Regions from separate parts of the Homo sapiens genome. Here region 2 is linked to region 1. The links come from fine-mapping of genetic effects on gene expression. A gene starts in region 1. The other region holds a variant in brackets. All regions are shown on one strand. Distances are from middle to middle.

The links.
Region 2: its variant is fine-mapped to the expression of NMT1 in whole blood (TOPMed, PIP 0.99).

Annotation. Positions count from the first base shown.
Region 1 is chr17:45,056,154-45,067,719 of GRCh38, forward strand. NMT1 (N-myristoyltransferase 1) reads left to right here and starts at 5,164. Exons shown (of 12, transcript NM_021079.5): 1 at 5,164-5,307. The coding sequence starts at 5,177. It also overlaps a transcript of DCAKD not described here. RefSeq lists enhancers at 3,944-4,935, 4,795-4,974, 4,936-5,927, 5,075-5,434, 5,288-5,582 and 1 more.
Region 2 is chr17:45,100,314-45,111,879 of GRCh38, forward strand. It overlaps NMT1 (N-myristoyltransferase 1), which reads left to right. Exons shown (of 12, transcript NM_021079.5): 9 at 2,638-2,808; 10 at 3,396-3,563; 11 at 4,546-4,683; 12 at 5,306-8,703. The coding sequence ends at 5,326. It overlaps PLCD3 (phospholipase C delta 3), which reads right to left. Exons shown (of 15, transcript NM_133373.5): 15 at 8,646-11,566. Among named protein-coding and RNA genes, the nearest start is that of MIR6784, 8.3 kb to the right of the region's middle. RefSeq lists enhancers at 3,213-3,713, 6,546-7,047. The variant G/A (reference allele first, on the strand shown) is at 5,347.

The sequences.
Region 1 (11,566 bases):
TCAAAAAAAAAAAAAAAAGAAGGTTATCTCTGACATGCTGGAAGTACAGCAAAGGCCTTGATCTGTGATGGACATCATGAAGAAAACTTTTCTTTGGTTATCATACCAGTAATGCTGACTTCCTGGGAAGGGAAATACTAATTAAGTGGGTATTAATTCTGTCCTAGACACTTTTAGGGCTCTCTATGTAAGTCTTATTTTACAGATAATGACATCAAAGCTCAGAGGTTAAGTGACTTGCCTAAGGTCATTCATTAAGTCAGAGGCAGAGCCAGGATTTAGAACCCAGGGAGTCACACTCTGCCTGCACTCTTTTTTATATATATTTTTTTTTTCCCAAGACAGAGTCTTGCTCTGTCGCCCAGGTTGGAGTGCAATGGTGCGATCTCGGCTCACTGCAACCTCCACTTCCCGGGTTCAAGCAATTCTCCCTGCCTCAGCCTCCCGAGTAGCTGGGATTACAGGCGTCCACCACTGTGCCCAGCTAAATTTTGTATTTTTAGTAGAGACGGGGTTTCACCACGTTGGCCAGGCTGGTCTCAAACTCCTGACCTCAGGTGATCCGCCTGCCTTGGCCTCCCAAAGTGCTGGGATTATAGGCATGAGCCACCGTGCCTGGCCCTTTTTCCTTTGAGACAGAGCCTCGCTCTGTCACCCAGGCTGGAGTGCGGTGGCGTGATCTCCGCTCACTGCAAGCTCCGCCTCCCTGGTTTACACCGTTCTCCTGCCTCAGCCTACCAAGTAGCTGGGACTACAGACGCCCGCCACCACGTCTGGCTAATTTTTTGTATTTTCAGTAGAGACAGGGTTTCACCATGTTAGCCAGGATGGTCTCGATCCCCTGACCTCATGATCTGCCCGCCTTGGCCTCCCAAAGTACTGGGATTACAGGCGTGAGCCACTGCGCCTGGCCCTTTTTTCCTATTTATATAGAGACGGGGCCTTGCCATGTTGTCCGGGCTGGAGTGCAGTGGCATGATCCTGGGTTCCAGCGATCCTCCCACCTCAGCCTCCCAAGTAGCTAGAACCATAGGTGCATGCCACAATGCCACGCTAATTTTTGTATTTTTTTTAGAGACAGGGTCCTCTATGTTGCCCAGGCAGGTCTCACACTCCTGGGCTCAAGTGATCCACCCATCTCAGCCTCCCAAAGTGTTGGGATTACAGGCATGAGCCACCTCACCCAGCTATATTTCTGCATAACTCCATAAGGCAGAACCGGGCCAGCTTTTCACAAACCAAAATTGTTTCAAAGTGGAAAGCTCTCGGCTGGGCGCAGTGGCTCATGCCTGTAATCCCAGCACTTTGGGAGGCCGAGGCAGGCGGATTGCCTGAGCTCAGGAGTTGGAGACCAGCCTGGGCAACATGGTGAAACCCCGTCTCTACTAAAATACAAAAAATTAGCTGGGCATGGCGGTGTGTGCCTGTAATCCCAGCTACTCGGGAGGTTGAGGCAGGAGAACTGCTGGAATCCAGGAGGCAGAGGTTGCAGTGAGCCGAGATAGTGCCACTGCACTCCAGCCTGGGCAACAGAGTGCGACTCCATCTCAAAAAAAAAAAAAAAACAGTAATTCAGGCCAGGTGCAGTGTCTCACACCTGTAATCTCAGCACTTTGGGAGAGCGAGGTGGGCGGATCACCTGAGGTCAGGAGTTCGAGACCAGCCTGGCCAACGTGGTGAAACCCTGTCTCTACTAAAAGTACAAAAATTAGCTGGGCGTGGTGGCAGGCACCTGTAATCCCAGCTACTTGGGAGGCTGAGGCAGGAGAATCGCTTAAACCTGGAAGGCAGAGGTTGCAATGAGTCGAGATTGTGCCACTGCACTCCAACTTGGGTGACAGTGAGATTCCGTCTCAAAAAAAAAAAAAAAAAAAAAAAAGCCTGGGCGTGGTGGCTCACACCTGTAATTCCAGCACTTTGGGAGGCCAAGGCAGGTGGATTACCTGAGGTCAGGAGTTTAAGACCAGCCTGGCCAACGTGGTGAAACCCCATCTCTACTGTAAGTACAAAAATTAGCCAGGCATGGGGGTGCGCACCTGTAGTCCCAGCTACCGGGGAGGCTGAGGTGGCAGGATCACTTGAATCCAGGAGGCAGAGGTTGCAGCAAGCCGAGATTGCGCCATTGCACTCCAGCGTAGGCGACAGAGCGAGACAGTCTCAAAAATAATAATAAATAAAAATAACACACAAAATATCTTTTTATCTTTTATTTTATTATTGTAATCCCAAAGTGCTGGGATTACAGGCATGAGCCACCACGCCCAGCCTACTTTTTATTTTTTTTGAGACAGAGTCCCACTTTGTCACCCAGGCTGGAGTGCAGTGGCAGAATCTTGGCTTACTGCAACCTCCGCCTCCCAGGTTCAAAAGATTCTCGCGTCTCAGCCTCCCAAGTAGCTGGGATTATAGGCGCCCACCACTAAGCCCAGCTAATTTTTTTGTATTTTCAGTAGAGACGGGGTTTCGCCACGTTGGCCAGGCTGGTCTCGAACTCCTGACCTCAGGTGATCCACCCACCTCGGCTTCCCAAAGTGCTGGGATTACTGGCATAAGCCCCAGCGCCTGGCCTGGCTTTATTATTCTTCTTCTTACCTCTGACCCCCCCCTTCCCTGCAGCTGCAAATAGGGCAATCGCGTTGAACAGCAGTCTTAGACCCCGGAGAGTTGAGTGTGGTGACAGCTCTCAGACTGAGTGGGCATCTTTGACTGCCTTCCAAAGTCAAATATAAATGACTGAGGATTATCTGCTGCTTTGGATCATAATTACTTATGCTTATGCCATTGATATAAAAACAGAGTTGAGTTGGCCGGGCGCGGTGGCTCACGCCTGTAATCCCAGCACTTTGGGAGGCCGAGGCGGGCAGATCACGAGGTCAGGAGATCGAGCCCACCCTGGCTAACACGGTGAAACCCCGTCTCTACTAAAAATACAAAAAATTAGCCGGGTGAGGTGGCGGGCACCTGTAGTCCCAGCTACTTGGGAGGCTGAGGTAGGAGAATGGCGTGAACCCGGGAGGCAGAGCTTGCAGTGAGCCAAAATCGCGCCACTGCAATCCAGCCTGGGCGACAGAGCAAGAGAGCGAGACTCCGTCTCAGAAAAAAAAAAGAAAGAAAGAGTTGACTATATTTAGTTCTGTGTTTTATTTGTGTTTTCTTTCCCTGAGTCAGATGGGAACTGTTTCTTCCCGCCCTGCCATTCTTCCCATGTTGAGATCTTTCCCAAAGGCAAAGATCATTTCCCTTTTTGGCCATGGAGCACTCTGATGGTAAGAATTAGTCCTCTCATCACCCACCACACTCAACCCGAATAGGAAATTTCCAAGAATGGGAACCATGTCTTTGGGCACTTAGGCGAGATTACTCAATCAAAAGAGTGAGACTCAGGGACTGAAACATTCAATCAAGGTTAAAAACAGATTAAAATGTGGCAGTTACCTTTTTTCCCCTGATATAGAATACGCACTGGAGTCACAGTTACCTTTTAGTAACTGATTTCCTTGAGTGAATAGTGTATCAGAAAATGGGACTTTTATGGTGGCAAAGAATTCAGAGGGCCTGGGGCACACAGATCTGGATTTGTATACCGATTTGCCACTTAACCAGCTATGTGACTGTGCAATTTACCAACCTCTCAGGGCCACATTTTTTCATCTGTCAAAAAGGTCAATATGGCCAGGTACGGTGGCTCACACCTCTAATCCCAGCACTTTGGGAGGCCGAAATGGGCAGATCACGAGGTCAGGAGTTCGAGACCAGCCTGACCAACATGGTGAAACCCCGTCTCTACTAAAAATACAAAAATTAGCCAGGTGTGGTGGCGTGCGCCTTTAATCCCAGCTACTCAGGAGGCCGAGGCAAGAGAATCGCTTGAACCCAGGAGGCGAAGGTTGCAGTGAGCCGAGATCGCACCACTGCACTCCAGCCTGGGAGTCAGAGAGAGACTCCGTCTCAAAACAAAACAAAACAAAACAAAGGTTGAATAATAATAATAGGACCTATATTGTAGACTTGTTGAGAGGATTAAATGAGATAATGTACGAAATGCCTTACTACAGAGTCTGGCACTTATTAAAGAAAGAGTTGATGTGGGCTGGGTGCCGTGGCTCACGTCTGTAATCCCAGCACTTTGCGGGGTTGGGGTAGGAAGATCCTTAGAGGCCAGGAGTTCGAGACCAGCCTGGGCAACAAGGCGAGACCCTCGTCTCTACAAAAAATATATAAATTATCCGGGTGTGGTGGCTCATGCCTATAGTCCTAGGTACTTGGGAGGCTGAGGTGGGAGGATACCTTGATTGCAGTGAGCTGTGATCTTGAGCCATTGCGCTCCAGCCTGGGCGACAGAAGGCGGCCGTATTTAAAAAAGAAAAAAGAAAGAAAGAAAGAAAAGAAAAGAAAAAAAGGGTCGTTGTGGAAAATTCTTGTGGGGAATTAAAGGGACCACGTGTGCGCGAAAGAGCTTGGCGAAGATAAGTACCTGGAGGCCAAGATGAGGCGGCGAGCCCTGCCTCCCTAGCAGTGTGGTCTCCTGGCTTAGGGTCAGTGCTTCGCACAAAAAAATCCACTGCCTCTCATGAGACCTTGAACTGCCAATGACCGCAGGTTGCCCAGACTCCCGAGTGAGGAAGGCGGCCAGGAGTCAACTAGGCTTCTTGCGGAAAAGCCCACTCTAAGAAGGCCTGGGGCATTCCGGCTCCAGGCAGGTAGCACCCGCGGGCCTCAGGCCCTTTCACTTACCCGGGAAACGTAACGGTCCTTAACGGCAGCCAATAACGGCTCCCAGCGGCCCAGGCACTGGCAAGGGCAGGCTGAAATCAAACCTCGGATTTTGGAACCTCCACGCCTGAAACCCTAAACCAGCATCGAACTACAACTCCCATCATGCCAGGCGGCCGCCCGGTTCCCAAGGGTCGGTCCCACCAACCTTGCGCCCCTTCTTTCCTCAAAGCGTGGCCGAATGCCTAGGCTTCCGGGTATCAGTGGCCCCGCCTCTTAATCCGACCGGAGCCGTCCCTCGTGATTCCTGGGTATTGTAGTCAGTTTCCTGGGAAAGAGTCGCTCCTAGTGGCAGCTCGCTTCGCCAGAAAAACTACAAAACCCAGAATGCAGCGCAAATTCCCCTTGTCCAATAGGAACCCCCCATGTAGTGGGGCGCGGAGCCCTGCTCTCGCAACTCAAGATGGCGGACGAGAGTGAGACAGCAGTGAAGCCGCCGGCACCTCCGCTGCCGCAGATGATGGAAGGGAACGGGAACGGCCATGAGCACTGCAGCGATTGCGAGAATGAGGAGGACAACAGCTACAACCGGGGGTAACGAAATCCTCGGAGTCCAATTCCCGTCCAGCCTCCCACAACCTGGGTCTCTGGGGTGCGGGGAAGTCACCGGGAGCTTAGTCTAGCCCCACCCTCATGTTCTTATTGGCTAAGTCACTAGGATTCTGCCTGGCGATTGGTTATTGCCTTTGTCATTTACCAAGGGTGGGTGCTCTGGATATTAAGGGCCGGAGACGTTCAGTACTTTTATTATATAAAAGTTCTATGCAGTGTTCCACTCGTGTGCTTCAGGCCATTCCTGGGAAAAGAGCATGTTGGACGATGGTTTTCGATGGTACAACACAGGACAGTCTAGTAACAGTACAGTTCAAAGGGAACGTTACTTATAGACGTGTTGTTTGAACAACGTGACTAGCAATAAACGAATCATAAAACATTTCGCAGCAGTTCACCCTCAGTGAGGAAACTCATCAGACTATACAAACTGTATGTATAATTATATTGTAAAATATCACTACCAGAGAATCCCAAAATATAAACTCACCTTATAAACCTATGTAATTAACGGTATGGTAATGCTTTGATTTACATAGTTTCCATTGCTCCAAATAATCCATAAGTATCCTGAACGATATATTAATATAATTAAGTCTTCGAACATCTTTGCCTTGTTACCTTTGCAGAGCAGCCCCAGGCTTCAAGAAATGAGCGATGTTGTTTCTTGGAGAGTATTTGGAATCCTCGGGCTCCATACTGCCTATCCTGTACTTTAGGGTCTTGCCATTAGTTACTATTTGTTCCTAGGGATGAAGAAACACACCAGGCATTTGAATGTTGAATTCTTTTCCCAAATTAGTTTTTACTTCTGTAAGCCACAGCTTATTCATCTTTCTTCACATGGTTAGTGCCTGGCACTGGCACTCACGCTGTCTCTCCCCATCTTCCTGTCTATATTTGTAGATATATTTTTAAACTGAAAGTCGTGAGAGATTTTTGGGTGTATAACTTGCTGAGTCTGAGGTAGTCTGATTTTCGTAGCCAGCTTGTTATTCGCAGTATTGGTGGCAGTGCAGATATAAAGGTATAAAGACCAAGGACTGCGTAGAAGAGATGGTCCCACAAGATTATAGTACATATTTTTATTGTATCCTTTCTATGTTTAGGTATGCTTAGATACACAAATACTTACCATTGTATTATAGTTGCCTGCAGTACTCAGTAACATGCAGCAGCCTATTGCTCCTAGGCTACAAACCTGTATAGCATGTTACTGTAATGTACACCATATAGCCTAGGCATTTAGTAGGCTATACCATCTAGATTTGTGTAAGTACACCCTATAATGTTGGCAAGGCAAAAATCACCTAACCATGCATTTCCCAGCACATATGCCTGACGTTCAGTGAAGCATGACTGTATTTAAGTGGTTTATAATCTGCTTGTGGTAAATCTTAGGTTAAAAGATCTAGCTTTTATGTTCTTCAGCCGGCATTAAAAATCACAGGAAGGGCCGGGCATGGTGGCTCATGCCTGTAATCCCAGTACTTTGGGAGGCAGATCACGAGGTCAGGAGATCGAGACCATCCTGGCTAACACTGTGAAATCCCATCTCTACTAAAAATACAAAAAATTTAGCCGGGCGTGGTGGCGGGCGCCTGTAGTCCCAACTACTCGGGAGGCTAAGGCAGGAGAATGGCGTGAACCCAGGAGGCAGAGCTTGCAGTGAGCTGAGATCACGCCACTGCACTCCAGCCTGGGCGACAGAGCGAGACTCCGACTCAAAAAAAAAAAAAAAAAAAAAAAATCACAGGAAGAAAGTAGAGGAATAGGAAGCTTGCCAAATTTAGTTTTTATAAGACTGTTCTGTTGCTGTAACTCACAACAGATCTAATGTAATAAAAGTCTTCTTTTGAAGTTTGATATTCCTAAAAATGGAAGAGCTGAGAAAGAGGAAGTAGGAACAGGAAGAAGGGAAAGTGAAGCTCTCCTGAGTAGAGATCTGAATCACAGATGAGAGTTGGTGAATGTGAAAGTCATTCCAGAAGTGAAAGTGTGGCATTTTCTTTGCTCTTTTTGTAGTTGCTTTTATTTTTATCTTCTTAACTGTTGTCCTGACCAGTGTCCTTAGGTTTGTGCCCTATAATCTGTGAATCACTTTTCAAAACTGTGTGCCAGAAAGTTATTTTATTGGCCTGGCGTGGTAGCTCACACCTGTAATCCCAGCACTTTGGGAGGCCGAGGCAGGTGGATCACTTGAGGTCAGCAGTTCGAGAACAGCATGGCCAACATGGTGAAACCCCGTCTCCACTAAAAATACAAAATTTAGCTGGGCATGGTGGCGTACGCCTATAGTCCCAGCTACTCCGGAGACTGAGGCAGGAGAATCACTTGAACCTGGGAGGTGGAGGCTGCAGTGAGTTGAGATTGCACCACTGCACTCCAGCCTGGGCAATAGAGCAAAGCCCTGTCTCAGAAAAAAAAGTGGCACACAGTGGCTCATGCCTGTAATCCCATCACTCTGGGAGGCCGAGGCGGGTGGATCACGAGGTCAAGAGATTGAGACCATCCTGGCTAACATGGTGAAACCCTGTCTCTATTAAAAATAGAAAAATTAGCTGGGCATGGTGGTGCATACCTGTAGTCCCAGCTACTCGGGAGGCTGAGGCAGGAGAATCACTCGAACCCGGGAGGCGGAGGTTGCAGTGAGCTGAGATTGCGCCACTGCACACCAGCTTGGCAACGGAGCGAGACTCCATCTCAAAAAAATAAATAAATAAAATTATTTTATTTGTAGTAGAAGTAAGTGATAACCTTAAAAACTTTGACAGTTTGCAGTGGTGTCTCTGTGCATGGTTATGGTCTGGGTGAAAAAATTATGTTTATTAGCGTCCCAAATCTAAAGATCTGTGAAAATGAGTTTGGAGGTAGTAGGTGAAAAACCAAGGGCCTAGTCTGGAGGAGAGAGTCTAATTCTGGCACTAAGAATCTGGGGTAGAGTCAACATTTTTCCATGAACTTTGAGAGGAAATGGTTTTGGGGAGAAGCAGCAATGTGGGAAAATGCAGCACGGCACAGTAGAAAAGCATGGACTTTGGAATAATTTAAATCTGGTCTGAGGCCAGGCGCGGTGGCGCACATCTGTAATCCCAGCACTTTGGGAGGCTGAGGTGGGCAGATCGCTTGTGGTCAGGAGTTTGAGACCAGCCTGGCCAGCATAGTGAAACCTCATCTCTACTAAAAATACAAAAATTAGCTGGGCATGATGGCAGGCGCCTGTAATCCTAGCTACTTAGGAGGCTGAGGCAGGAGAATCACTTGAAAACAGGAGGCAGAGGTTGCACTGAGCTGAGATCTCTCCAGTGCACTCCAGCCTGGGCGACAGAGCAAGCCTCTGATCTCAAAATCTCATCTCAAAGCTTGGCTCTGACACTTAACAGTCCTGTGACCTTGGGAAAGGTACTTAACTCAGAGTTGTAGGGATTAATGAGATAACATCTGGAATGCACTCCTTTTCCTCCCTCCTCCTCTTTCTTCAGATCGTCCCTAACCTCCCAGCTTGCCCCTCTGCTCTTATCACATACTGTATTGTAGCTTTTATCGTAACAATAGTTATAATAACAATAAATATAACTACATGTTTGGTAATTTTTCTTAATGTGTCTGGTACCTGTCTCATCTGACAGTAAGGAGCATGTAAACAGGATTGTGTCTTCGAAATGCCTAGCACTTAGTGGGCATTAATGAGTATTTGCTGTATGAATGAATGGCAGATATTAAAGTGCCTAGCCCAGTATTAGTGGAGTTTCATCTCCCCTCACCAAGTGAGAGGATGTCAGATTTTTCTTACATACACATTTTCTCTCCCCAAATAATTCTCATTGTAAGCCTCACTACAGTTTTTATGAAATACCTACAGAGGCAGGGCATGGTGGCTCACACCTGTAATCCCAGCACTTTGGGAGGCTAAGGCGGGCGGGATCATGAGGTCAGGAGATCGAGACCATCCTGGCTAACACAGTGAAACCCCATCTCTAATAAAAATACAAAAAATTAGCCAGGTGTGGTGGCGCATGCCTGTAGTCCCAGCTACTCGGGAGGCTGAGGCAGGAGAATGGTGTGACCCTGTGAGGCGGAGCTTGCAGTGAGCCGAGATTGCGCCATTGCACTCCAGCCTGGGCGACAGAGCCAGACTCTGTCTCAAAAAAAAAAAAAAAAAAAAAGAAATACCTACAGAAACCAGGAAGCTCCAATTTGCTGTGGAGCTTTCCACTGTTGTGTGCTTTCCACTGTGTTTTGCTTCTTGAAATGTTTTTTGTCTTAATATTATTTAAAATGTTCTCAAAAATCATGTAAAAATTGACAGAGAAGTTTTCCTTTCAATGCTAGAGAGTCTAAAATGTGTAATATATAATAAAGGTTAATGATAGTTCGAGCTAACCCTTATTCTCCTGGGCCTTTTTTTTTTTTTAAAGAGACTGTGTCTCGCTATGTTGCTCAGACTAGTCTCAAACTCCTGGGTTCAAGTGATCCTCCTGCCTTAGCCTCCCAAAGTGCTGGGATTGTAAGCATGAGCCACCACACCCAGCCTCCTGCCCCTTTTTTTCAGGAACTAAAGTCATAGTACTCTATGCTAATAAAATGAGCTAAATTCATGTACTGGATTCTGTTGCCCGGGCTGGAGTGCTGTGGCGCGATCTTGGCTCACTGCAACCTCTGCCTCCCGGGTTCAAGAAATTCTCCTGCCTCAGCCTCCTGAGTAGCTGGGACTACAGGAGCACACTGCCACACCCGGCTAATTTTTCATATTTTAGTAGAGACGGGGTTTCACCGTTGTTGCCCAGGCTGGTCTTGAACTCCTGAGCTCAGGCAATCCACCTGCCTTGGCCTCCGAAAGTGCTAGGATTACAGGTGTGAGCCACCACGCCCGGCCAGTTGTATTAGTTACTTATGTCTCTTTGTATATGAATTTAGTTCTTGACTTTTCTGGTCTTGTGTTTCCTCCGTAATTAAATCAGCATAAACATTTGGTGAATATAAAACTTCATGTGGTTGTGTGTAGTGGCTCATGCCTGTAATCTCAGCACTTTGGGAGGCTGAGGCAGAAAAATCACTTGAGCTCAGGAGTTCGAGACCAGCCTGGGCAACATGGTGAGACCCCATCTCTATAAATAAAAACAAAAAAACCCAAACCCTTCATGTATACATATAGGTATACATGCATACATATGCAGTGTGTATGGGTGCGTCTCTTCAGTTTTTCTATTTAAAAATTTTTTAATTTAATTTTAAAATTATTGTTATTACTTTGGAAACAGGGCCTCGCTCTGTCGTCCAGGCTATAGTACAGTGGTGTGATCATGGCTTACTGCAGCCTTTGACCTGGGCTCAAGCGATCCTCCCACCTCAGCCTCCCAAGTAGCTAGGATTGTAGACATGCACCATCATCCCTGGCTAATTTTCTTTTTAAAAAGTTTCTGTAGAGATGGGGTCTCACTATTTAGCCCAGGCTGGTCTCAAACTGCTGGCCTCAAGTGATGCTGCCACCTTGGCCTCCCAAACTGCTGGGATTGTGGGCATAAGCTCCTGCATCCAGCTGGTTTTGTTTGTTTTTTTACTGCACTCAATTTCCCCCAGTTACGTGCCTAGCGTAATTATCCTGAACAATTGAGAGGAGAGTCAGATAAGATAACCTTTATGCAGCATCCCCCTGTAGTTCGTGATTCATCTATATGGTTTAATTTGATTTTTTTTTTTTTTTAATGAGAGTCTTTCCAAGAAGTATTGCCAAAGAATAAATCTCATCAGTTGGCAGATTTTAATTTGGGGGTAATAAGTGAAGATTGTCTGAGTGTTTTGGAACAAAAAAGAACTTTTAGACTATTGTGTTCTAGGAATCTTTCGGAATTTATTTTGCAGTGTCTTCAGTGTCATTGAGATCCTGGTAAGCACGGGTCAAGAGCCCTCTGACAAGAGGTGTCTCATCTCCATCCTGCTCTCTTACTCCCTGGGACAGGTTAACATGGATTCTTTATAAGTTCTCCTCATTTCCTGGTTGTGAGATACTATCCCTTATGAAAACTTAGGAGGAGAGAAAAGTCTTTCTGAAAATAAATTCCATAAAGCTAGCCTTACTTGTTTTTGTTTTTTTCTTCAGCTTCTCCAAGAGTCGTTCTTTCCCTATTTATTTGATGGCTTATAGCTGCAGCTAGCTCTTGGAAATAAGAAATCTTTTTAGTTCCTTTTTAATTTCTCCCTTCAACTTTTGGTTTTTCAAAACTAGATCAAAGCAGAATGG
Region 2 (11,566 bases), 44 kb after region 1:
CCCAGCACTTTGGGAGGCTGAGGTGGGCAGATCACGAGATCAGGAGATCAAGACCATCCTGGCTAACACGGTGAAACCCCGTCTCTAGTAAAAATATAAAAAATTAGCCAGTCGTGGTGTGGTGGGTGCCTGTAGTCCCAGCTACTTGGGAGGCTGAGGCAGGAGAATGGCATGGACCCGGGAGGTGGAGCTTGCAGTGAGCCAAGATCACGTCATTGCACTCCAGCCTAGGCGACAGAGCGAGACTCCGTCTCAAAATAAAAGAAGCCTGGGCGTGGTGGCTCACGCCTGTAATCCCAGCACTTTGGGAGGCCAAGGCAGGCGGATCACGAGGTCAGGAGATCGAGACCATCCTGGCCAACACGGTGAAACCCTGTCTCTAATAAAAATACAAAAAATTAGCTGGTCGTGGCGTGGCGGGCACCTGTAGTCCCAGCTACTTGGGAGGCTGAGGCAGGAGAATGGCATGAACCTGGGAGGCGGAGCTTGCAGTGAGCCAAGATCGCACCACTGCACTCCAACCTAGGCAACAGAGCAAGACTCCGTCTCAAAAAAAAAAAAAAAAAAAAAAAAAAAAAAAAAAGAAGGCCAGGCGCGGTGGCTCACACCTGTAATCCCAGCACTTTGGGAGGCCTAGGCGAGTGGATCACGAGGTCAGGAGATCGAGACCATCCTGGCTAACATGGTGAAACCCCGTCTCTACTAAAAATACAAAAAAAAATTAGCCGGGCTTGGTGGTGGGCGCCTGTAGTCCCAGCTACTCGGGAGGCTGAGGCAGGAGAATGGCGTGAACCCGGGAGGCGGAGCTTGCAGTGAGCTGAGATAGCGCCATTGCACTCCAGCCTGGCCCACAGAGCGAGACTCCATCTCAAAAAAAACAACAACAACAAAAAAAGGATTTTGCCATGTTGCCCAGGCTCATCTGAATTCCTGGGCTCAAGTGATCCACCCACCTCAGCCTCTCAAAGTGCTGGGATTACAGGCATGAGCCACTGTGCCCATCCCAGTAGGGATTCTTAAAATCCCTTCTCAGGTGGGCGGTGGCTCACGCCTGTAATCCCAGCACTTTGGCAGGACAAGGCGGGTGGATCACGAGGTCAAGAGATTGAGACCATCCTGCCAACATGGTGAAACCCTGTCTCTACTAAAAACACAAAAATTAGCTGGGTGTGGTATGTGCCTGTAATCCCAGCTACTTGGGAAGCTGAGGCAGCAGAGTTGCTTGAACCTGGGAGGCAGAGGTTGCAGCGAGCCGAGATCGCACCATTGGACTCCAGCCTGGCGACAGAGCAAGACTCCGTCGCAAAAAAAAAAAAAAAAAAAAAAGGAAAGAAAGAAAAAATCTCTTCTCTTTCCTCGGAGTGCTTCTTCCTATTGGTCATCAGTGCACACAGTCACTGCGTTCCTGCTGACATGAGGCTGCCTGCCTGGACTCCTCAGCCTCTAAACAGGATTGATCACTCTGAAATCAGGCTAATCCACCTAGTGATTGGGGTCATTAGTGTCCCATCTTGAGAGACTGCTGCAGTACCGTTAGACACTGCCAAAAGCACAGGCTTGGGGGACTGTGGTATGTGTCTTCTCCCTTCTGTTCTCATGACAGATCTGCCTTGCGTTCTAGGCCGGTGGGCAGGCAGGCAGAGAGCATTCTTAGAGTGCTGCAGCAGCAGAAGAATGTCTCACCCATGTCTGGGTGGAAACCCCAGCATGGCTGTGTTTTCAGTCCAGGATTTGAGGTATCATTGTGGGAGCTGCCATGTAGAATGAGGTCATTGAGCGTTCCCCTAAAGAGACGAGGATTTAGCAAGGAATTTTAGAGGCTGGAGGTTCTAGAACTGAAGTTTTAAAAGCAATTCCTGCACTGGGAAGCATTGTGTCAGGCACTGACTGAGGCCTGTAAACTGTGACACCACCCTGTTTGCAGATTGCCCCAAGGCCACCTTTGTGTATCTGAGCCTCTGGGGATGTTCTACCAGCCCCGGTATTTGCTCCACAGGATCACATGGTTTCATTCCACTGAAGCATTTTTCTAGCAAAAGCAGCTGCCGGGTGGGACGCTGACTGGGGATAAAATCCTGGGAGTATGCTGCTTTTCTTCTGAATGTAACCCACAGCCGTGTCTCTCTGGGAAGTACTGGTGTAATAGTGTCTGGGTGGGCAGACCCTGGCTGGGCCCTGGGGTCTGTCCGCGAAGTGCTCTAAGTCTAGCAGAGAAAGAGCAGTGAGTGTGGGATGGCATCAGTCACAGTTCAGTGAGAAGCCTGTGAGGACTGTTGGGCTGCGTGGGCAGAAGGTACAGCTAGAAAGGCCAACCTGGCCCAAGGGTAGAAATTCTTGTCTTCTGGGGTGGGGAGTTTGAAACAAGGGTGGAGCATGAAGGGTTGTGTTTTCTTAGGGAGTCAGCCTGGGGCCATGTAGATGGTTGATTGATGTAGCAGTCTGAGTCTGCCTGGACTAGGAGGGAAAGGGCCAGAAGATACGGAAGAGGCAGGCCCTGTGCCTGAGGAGATATGCACGGGGGTGCAGGGAGCCGCCGAATGACCAGGGATTCTCTCTTGAGGGCCTGATCTGTCCTTGCCATGGATAGATCCAGGGTGATCAGCTCATCTCACTCCATCTCTTCTGTCTTGCCTCCAGACTCCCAAGACAGCTGGGCTGCGACCAATGGAAACAAAGGACATTCCAGTAGTGCACCAGCTCCTCACCAGGTACTTGAAGCAATTTCACCTTACGCCCGTCATGAGCCAGGAGGAGGTGGAGCACTGGTTCTACCCCCAGGAGAATATCATCGACACTTTCGTGGTGGAGGTGAGTCAGGGAGTGGTGTTCCAGGTCTCTAACACGTTCCCAGAGAGGCACCCCCCTGAGTGGCCGGGTTCCCAGGGCTCGAGTGTTGGCACCTTAGACTTCCTTGACCATCCGTGTTTGGTCCTCCCTAAAAACAGGGAGTTGGTGCTTGAATTTGCTGAAAAGATACCTCTGGATCTGGCTTGAGCCCTTCTCCCCCTCTGCCCCACTTTGATAACACAAAATAGAGAGAACTGAGCCCCGCTTAATCCTTCAGGAAAGCCTGCAATTCCCTGCCTGTCCCAGCTTAACCCAGTGCTGACCAGACATAGGAGACACAGTCTGGGGGGATGTGAGCTGCAAGAAGAGGTCCCTGGCGGTGCCCATGCTGGGAAAGAGGTCTGGCAGGTTCAGCCCACGATCACGGCTCTGTCCTCAAGTGCCCTGAGCCAATGTCCCTCCTCCTCCCCACATGTCCTGTTGCAGTTTCCAGCCATTTATCTAGAGGGGCAGAGCTGCCTGAAGGTGGAGTGAGAGAAACATTTTGTTCCCGGGCCGCAGTGCCACTGTGCATGCTTGACATTGCCTCTTTATTGCCTTCCCTTCAGAACGCAAACGGAGAGGTGACAGATTTCCTGAGCTTTTATACGCTGCCCTCCACCATCATGAACCATCCAACCCACAAGAGTCTCAAAGCTGCTTATTCTTTCTACAACGTTCACACCCAGACCCCTCTTCTAGACCTCATGAGCGACGCCCTTGTCCTCGCCAAAATGGTGAGGAGCAGACGGGGGGGTCTCTGGAGATGTGCAGGGAAGAGGCAGTGGAGCCATGGTGAGCACAGCTCCCGGGACGCAGCCTCCCATGGGCTGGAGGCTCTGAGCCCTCCTCATCTGTTCTGCTTAGGCAGGGTTCCCGCAGTTTTTAGGCAGAAACTCAAAACTTGGAGGGAACAAGGAGCATCCGAAGTGAAGGCATTGAACTCCTCCTGATTCATTTCAGTGAGTTTCGTTCTCACAGGAGGCGCCACCAAGGAGCCTGAATAGCCAGGCCTTCCCTGGGAGGACAGGGCTTCTCCTCACAGCTTTCCCAGCGTGGGAAAGGGGTGATTGCTGTCTGTCGTGGTGAGTCATTGGAGCATCCAACTGCCAGTAGCGGATGGCGAGCCCGTCTGTCAGTGCTTTGCTGTGGGTTCTGGTAACCTGTGCCCAGCCCAGCCCAGCCTGCTGTAGGCAATCTGGTCCCTGCCCTGTGAGAGCTTCTGCTCCAGTTGGTGAGGTTTAGGAAGCATCTTCACAGTCTCCAAGCAACACAGCAGGTGTCATACAACATGAGGTGCACTGAGGGCCTGAGAGTTGGGGCATCCATGGAGTAAGGAAGCAACACAAACCCCATGTAGCTGACCAGAGCCAGCTTCTCAGAGGAATGGGCTCAGGGTTTGGACTCCAGAGAGGACTGTGGAAATTACTAGAGTTTCAGGGAGGCATAACCAGGAATAGCAAGAGCCCCGGCCTGGACACTGAGTACATATGTGTACACTCTGAGGGACACTGGGCAGAGGCCAGGCTGGAGGGGGCGCTCAGAGTGTCCTGAGAACCACCCGGAGAGCGGGGATTAACGTGGAAGCAGCGGAGCTTCTGAGGGAACCTTGTTCTTGTGGCTGCCCACAGGACAGCTTTGAAATGGCAGCAAAGGGGTAGGAAGGAGGCTGTCCCCACCTGTCCTCACCTGTTCTTGTTTGTCCCTGCTGCTTTGCAGAAAGGGTTTGATGTGTTCAATGCACTGGATCTCATGGAGAACAAAACCTTCCTGGAGAAGCTCAAGTTTGGCATAGGGGACGGCAACCTGCAGTATTACCTTTACAATTGGAAATGCCCCAGCATGGGGGCAGAGAAGGTAGGCGACACATAGCCAGAGTCCAGGCTGCCCGGCCCAGGGTGTCCATGTCTCCAGCAGAAACCGGGCCATGGGTTGAGGAGACAGCCGCAGTCTGGGTCCTTGTTACCTCGAGTTGAACCTTTGAAAATGCCCTCCCTCTGCTGGCCAGACCAGCAGGTCAGCGTTCCCCTCTCAGCAACTGGTGTGAGGATGGCAGAGGGGACAGAGCCACACAGTAGCACGAAGATCATCTCCAATGAGGCCTTCCCACGTGAGGGAACCGTGGAAGTTGAGTTGCCCACGGTTTGCCAGGAGGGTAGGGCTGGGGGAACTCTGAGGAGGTTTCCTCTCCTGAGCTGCTGCCCTCTTCTGGCATGACACTTTCTTAGCCCTTCCTCCCCCAGTGCCACAGGGGACATAGGGGTGAGCTGGAGCGTGGGCCAGTTTTCCCTGGGAGGTCTGATGGACGTGTGAACCCTGGTGTGGAGGTTGAGTGTGGGGCCGGCTGGGTGTGAGTCTGCTCCCACAGCACAGGCGGTGGACCCGGGCCCAGCCACTCGGAACTTCAGGGATAGGGGGTGTGGGAGAGTCTTTGGGCCACTGTCAACTCAGCTCTGCCTCTCCCTGTTGGCTTTCCTAGGTTGGACTGGTGCTACAATAACCAGTCACCAGTGCGATTCT[G/A]GATAAAGCCACTGAAAATTCGAACCAGGAAATGGAACCCCACCACTGTTGGTCCAATTTTCACACACGTGAGAATCCCTGGCAAAGGGAGCAGAACTGAACCGGCTTTACCAAACCGCCAGCGAACTTGACAATTGTATTGCGATGGCGTGGGCTGCGTGACGTCACCTCCGGTCGTGTCTCTGGTCTCCGTGTTTTCCAGTTAATTACATCCTCATGCAGCCGTGATCAAGGGAATGTAACTGCTGAAAACTAGCTCGTGATTGGCATATAATGGAGTTAACGGGTGAATAATAAAAGTATATATATATATTATATATATATAAATATTTTAAATATCTTTCATGTTCCAAATGTACAAGGATGTTTGGTCTTTAATGAAAAGCTGAATCCAGATCATTCCTCAGAATGAGGACCCGAGGACAGTGGCAGACAGACGCGTTGGCACAGTTCATGGTTTCCTCCAGAGGAGACATTGGCTTATCATGGGGAAAAAGAGGATCTGGAGAACCTCATCCAGCTCCCCTTCTGAATCAGCTGGGATGACTGGCTTTGAGAAGGAAGGGAAGATGGAACAGGCTCAGATCTCATGGGATAGCACGTGGAGCTCTTGGCTGGGGCTGACCCTGGGCAGGGACTTTCCTGCAGGGCCAGACCTGCCTGCATTCTGAGACAAAGCAATGGACGGTCCGCAGAAGCAGACCTCATTGATTGAGTCCTTTCTTCCATCCCCTTGGCCTGCTCCCTGTAGGAAGTCATCCTGCCAACTGATTTAAAAGGGCTCTTTAGCCAGTTGTTGCCAACCTTATAGGGATGAGTCCCCTGTGAGATTTTGCTTTTCCACTGCCTGGGATGATGCAGTTTGAAGAGGCCCTTGGACCTCCTTGTAACATCAGGGACCTTTGGAGACCATTATCAGTGTAAGCCCTGCTTAGCTCATCTTAGAGCAAAGAGCCAGCACCCTGATGTCCCTGGGGTGGCTAGGCAGGAGTGGCGTGGGGCCAATACCCAGACCCCTTCAGCCACCAGCCCCTGGCCTGTGCCTTCCAACCCATTAGCCATTTCTTGTTGTGCCCCTTTCCAAGATACAGCCTGCAAGTGGTAGCAAGAAGTGATTAGAGGCAGATCTGGACTTGGCAACAGAAGTGGTTTCCCATCTCCATTGTCTGAGTCTGATTTTCGCTGATGCTGTTTTGTGGATTTTTGTGGTAGTGATGGTTGTCAGTGCTGCCAGTTTCCCAAAACGTAATCAAGCCTCTGGTCACATGGCTGTCGATGTAGGCATTCTGGAGTGGTGTTCAGCCAAGTGACCGGGCAAAATTGGGCTGTGAAATTGTACTTCCAGGCTTGGATGTAATTTTTGCTCTAGAGAGAAGCAAGTGGTGGGAAGGAGGTAGCATGACGTGTGGTGTGCGGGTTTCCTTGCTGCCGTCACCTCTCCGCTCATACAGGAATGAAGCCTTAGCCAGGAGGCCAGGCTCAGCCCTGTGCCACTCACCGAAGCCACTTTCTACAGGCCAGCAGGGGCTTGTTGCAGGCTGTGGGTTTTGGTGTGGTTTGTCAGAGGCTAATTCTGCAGAGTTTCCAAAACCAGAAGACATCGTATGCTTGGGATGGGGGCCGTGCCACCCGTGGGAATGCTGCCCGCTCTGCAGACTGCTGCTAGAGCCAGCAACTCCACTAAGGTGGATTTTCATCAGGGGCCTGCAGGGCCCTCCCTTTTCCCATTGTTCCTGCGCTGCAAATTGCAGGCCCCAGCAATCGTGACTGACGTTTGCTCCTTGACTCCAAGAAACTGAGACCAAAGAAGCTGCTGTTCTTAGCAAGATGCGCACTGCATTCCACAGGTGGGAGGAGTCGGAGAGGCAGGGGCTTGCTTTGCAGCCCCACAGACAACAGTTGCACAGTGCCTCAAGCCCCAGAGTGGCTCACCCTGTCCAGACCTTTGAGGATATCAAAGGACAAAGTGCCCAAGTCTTTCCTACCTTGGGGGAACCTGGAACTTGGAAAGGCTCCCTGTCCTAGTCTTGATCTGTTCTGGGCCAGGTCCCAGCTTGAGCTGCCTCTGAGATTTGGGCTGTGCGGATCTCTGGAGTGAGCTCTGTTTCGGTTGACCCAGGTCATGGAATGGAAACGGTGAGGCCCCAGTGGCTGTTCTGGAAGAAACAGATCTCCTGGCAAAGGCCCCAGCATCTCCCTCACTGAAACCAGGTGGCCGGCTCCTCGGACTCTGCTTTATGTTGCGGTGAGAACTCTGCCCAGGTGTGCAGGGTTTGGCTTGTGGGCTGCTTGCTGCTCATCTGATTTTTGTCCCAGTAGTCCCTGCGTTCTTCATTCAACCCCTTCTGGGACTTCAGCTCAGAGAGCACCATCCCGGGGGTCAGGGCCTCCCCACAGGAGCCCTGCAGTGTGGTAGCGCCATGGCTGTCTCAAACCAAGCAAAGGAAGGACCCTGAGGCCTTCACGCTAACCGTCCTCGAGCAACTGCTGTTGGAAGGCCTCCCTGGGCCTGGCCCCCACCCTCTGCCACCCAGTCCTCCCAGCTGCCATGTTTCAAAGACGACCTTTACCTCCTGCCTTTGGATTGACTCTGCATTTGACCACGGACTCCAGTCTGTGTGTAGGGAGAGAGCTGAGTAGGAGGCCTCCACTCCGGATCGAGGCCTGTATAGGGCTCGTTTCCCCACACATGCCTATTTCTGAAGAGGCTTCTGTCTTATTTGAAGGCCAGCCCACACCCAGCTACTTTAACACCAGGTTTATGGAAAATGTCAGGCCTTCCCCACAACTCCTGTCTAACTGCTGTCGCCCCCCTACTTGCTGGCTCTCAGAAGCCTAGGGGAGTCCCTGTGGTCCTGAATTCTTTCCCCAAAGACGACCAGCATTTAACCAACCTAAGGGCCCAAAGGCCTTGGACAACTGCATGGAGCTGCACTCTAGGAGAAGGAGGGGAACCAGATGTTAGATCAGGGGAGGGAGCAGGAGTGTCCCTCCCGTCAGTGCCTACCCACCTGTGAGGCAGCCTTCTGATGGCCTGGCCCACCTTCCCCAGAACCAGGGGAGGCCTGAGGCTTCAGTTTTACTCTGCTGCAAAATGAAGGCGGGCCTGCAAGCCGACTACACCTACGGAGGCTGTTGAGGACAATTTCATTCCATTAAATTAAAAAATACTGACTGGCTGGCAGGCAGGTGCCATGTCTGGGAACAGGGACGGGGGAGCTTCACCTTTTTGTCTTGGCTTTTCTTTGGGCTGTGGGGGGGCATCCATTTCCAGGGTCGGGGAGGAAATACCAAATGCATTGTTGTTCTGCTCAATACATCTCACTTGTTTCTAATAAAGAAAGCAGCTGAACAAAACCTTCTGTCCTGGTATTCCTGGTCAGCAGGTGGCAGTGGAAGAAATGGAGTGCTGGAGCCTAGGCTGGAGCCAGGACGACAGGGCTTGGACACAAAGTCCCTCAAGCCCACAGCACCAGGCCAGCTTCCAAAGGCCTTCCTTTAAGGCTGCCCTTCTTCCAGGGCAAACTTGGTGTTGTCAGACCCTTCCCACCCGCCAGAGACGAGCTGCTATTGACCCAGGTTCACTCCAAGTTAGAGCAGCAACTGGGCTCTCAGCCAGCACCTGAGCACCTCAGCACAGGAGCCGGCCCAGGCTTCCCTAGCTGGGCACAGAGCAGCCCCCTTGGTCCAGGTCAGCAGTGGCTCCTCTGGTGGAGGTGCAGGCCCCGTGCCTTCCCACTGTGCCCAGGTGCCACATCTCTCCTCCTGCACCACTGGCCGGGTGGTTCTTTGAGTCACTAGGGGTGCATTTTAACATGGCAAGTTGCTGGGCCCCAGTAGCTGTGTTTAAGACTTCCCATTCCCCCTCTTCTCATCCTCTGGAACTTACCCATTCCCTGACCCCCTGATCCTTTCAGGTCCATGACTGGTGCCTCCAAGCCCCTTTCCAGGGAAACTGAGAGGACACAGGACCTGCCTGACCCCTCTAAAGCCCCCCAACCCTCCTGTCCCAAACCAAGTCACTCAGGCTCCTATGGCCCATGCCTTTTTTCCTGCCCTTAGCTTTGGGCTGAGAGAACATAGCCCTATGTGTTGTTTCTACCCATGGGCCTCTGGGATAAAAAGCTGTGATTTCAGGCTGGGCATGGTGGCTCACGCCTGTAATCCCAGCACTTTGGGAGGGCGAGGCGGGTGGATCACGAGGTCAGGAGATCGAGACCATCCTGGCTAACACTATGAAACCCTGTCTCTACTAAAAACACAAAAAAATTAGCCGGGCATGGTGGTGGGCGCCTGTAGTCCCAGCTACTTGGGAAGCTGAGGCAGGAGAATGGTGTGAACCCGGGAGGCGGAGCTTGCAGTGAGCCAAGGTCGTGCCACTGCACTCTAGCCTAGGCGACAGAGCGAGACTCCATCTCAAAAAAACAAACAAAAAAAAAACCCTGTGATTTCTCCCTTGCTTCTGCTTCCCAGTTCACTTCCTTAAAGACTCTTGCCCTTTTGGCTGGGTGCAGTGGCTCACGCCTGTAATCCCAGCACTTTGGGAGGTCAAGGCGGGTGGATCACCTGAGGTCAGGAGTTCGAGACCAGCCTGGCCAACATGGTGAAACCCCGTCTCTACTAAAAATACAAAAATTAGCTGGGTATGGTGGCGGGCGCCTGTAATCCCAGCTACTCCGGAGGCTGAGGCAAGAGAATCGCTTGAACCCGGGAGGCAGAGGTTGCAGTGAGCCGAGATCACGCCATCGCACTCCATCCTGGGGGACGAGCAAGACTTTGTCTCAAAAGAAAAAAAAAAAAGACTCTTGCCCTTTCAAGGCAGCCTTCTCAGTATTGGGCCCTCATCCTAGCCTTCACCCCTTCCTCTTGGTACCAGATACGAAACCAGAGAAGCCAAGCAGGATGGGCACTCAGCCCTGGGTCTGGTGCTCACCTGACCCAGACCCCCCAGCCAGCCCCTGGCCAGACCTGGCTCTGCAGGGGCTGGGCAATGCTAATGGCTCTTCATTTGCTAAAACTGGACTTAGCCTCACTGTGCCTCCCATCCTGAGGCTGCAGTTTGGCAGCCTGACCCTCTGACAGCCCTGAGTGCCAGATGCCCGGGCTGCCTGGCCCGGCCCGCCTGGCTCGGCCCATTCCTTCTGGGCCCTTTTGATTCTGATTATCCTCTTTCAGACACACAAATTAACCAGAGCCAAACGCCACTCCCAGCATGAAGGAGCGGGGGACACTGCCACTTTCTGCATTAGTTCTTGGAGTTGCTAGAAGGTGGAGTCTGCCCCAGCCCTGTGTTTTGGTTTCTGTGGGGCTTGGGGCCAGTTCAAGGCCTATCCCAGCCCAGTTCCAGGCCACCCTCTGGGGACTAATGTCAAGTTCTGCCCTTGTCCAGTGCCGGCACTGTTGGCTGGCAGAACCTAAAACACCAGGCCTCCACATTTCACCCTGCTGGCAGGGGCGGGTGCAGGATTTTCTCCAGATTCTGTCGCCTAGTGTCCAGTGCGCTCTCCTGGCATTTCTATAGAGGCGGCCCAAGCAGCGTTTCCAGCCTTTGTGTAAAAGGCTGGCTGGCTGGAGGAAGGGAAGCCCGTGTCCTTGGGATTTGCCCTACTGAGCAGACAGGGGCCTTGAGCCCAGCCAAGCCTGGAGAGTGGCAGTCTGAGGGTCCCTCAGACTCCTGTCTCCTCCTCATTCAAGGCCCCTCTGTGTATGTGTGAGTGTGTGTGTGTGTGTGTGTGTGTGTGTGTTGTGGGGAGGCGCTGACCTGCTGAATTGGCATCCTCAGACAGTCTTGTGATACTCGCAGCAGCTTTAAGCCAGGAGCAGGGATCGGGCTATTTAGAGCTGTGGCATCTCCTGCTGCCACCCCCTGGCTGTCTTAGCCAAGTCCATGCCCTGTTGAGGGGAGAGGCCCAAGAAACTCATCCAGCCCTGTCCCTCCTCATGGGCCTGTGGGGGTGGCAGCATAGAGGTGCTCAGGGAGTGGCGGTGGTGAAATCAACGTGCTTCTTTATTTTTTAAACTAGATAGGCTCATTCTACTGTCTTCTCCAGGGCTCTTCTATGAAACAGTTACAAACCTACGGCCAGGCCAGGCAGTGGCTCACACCTGTAATCCCAGCACTTTGGAATGCTGGGGCAGGAGGATCACTTGAGGTCAGGAGCTCGAGACCAGCCTGGGCAACATAGGGAGACCCCCGCCCCCCCCGCCATCTCTACATAAA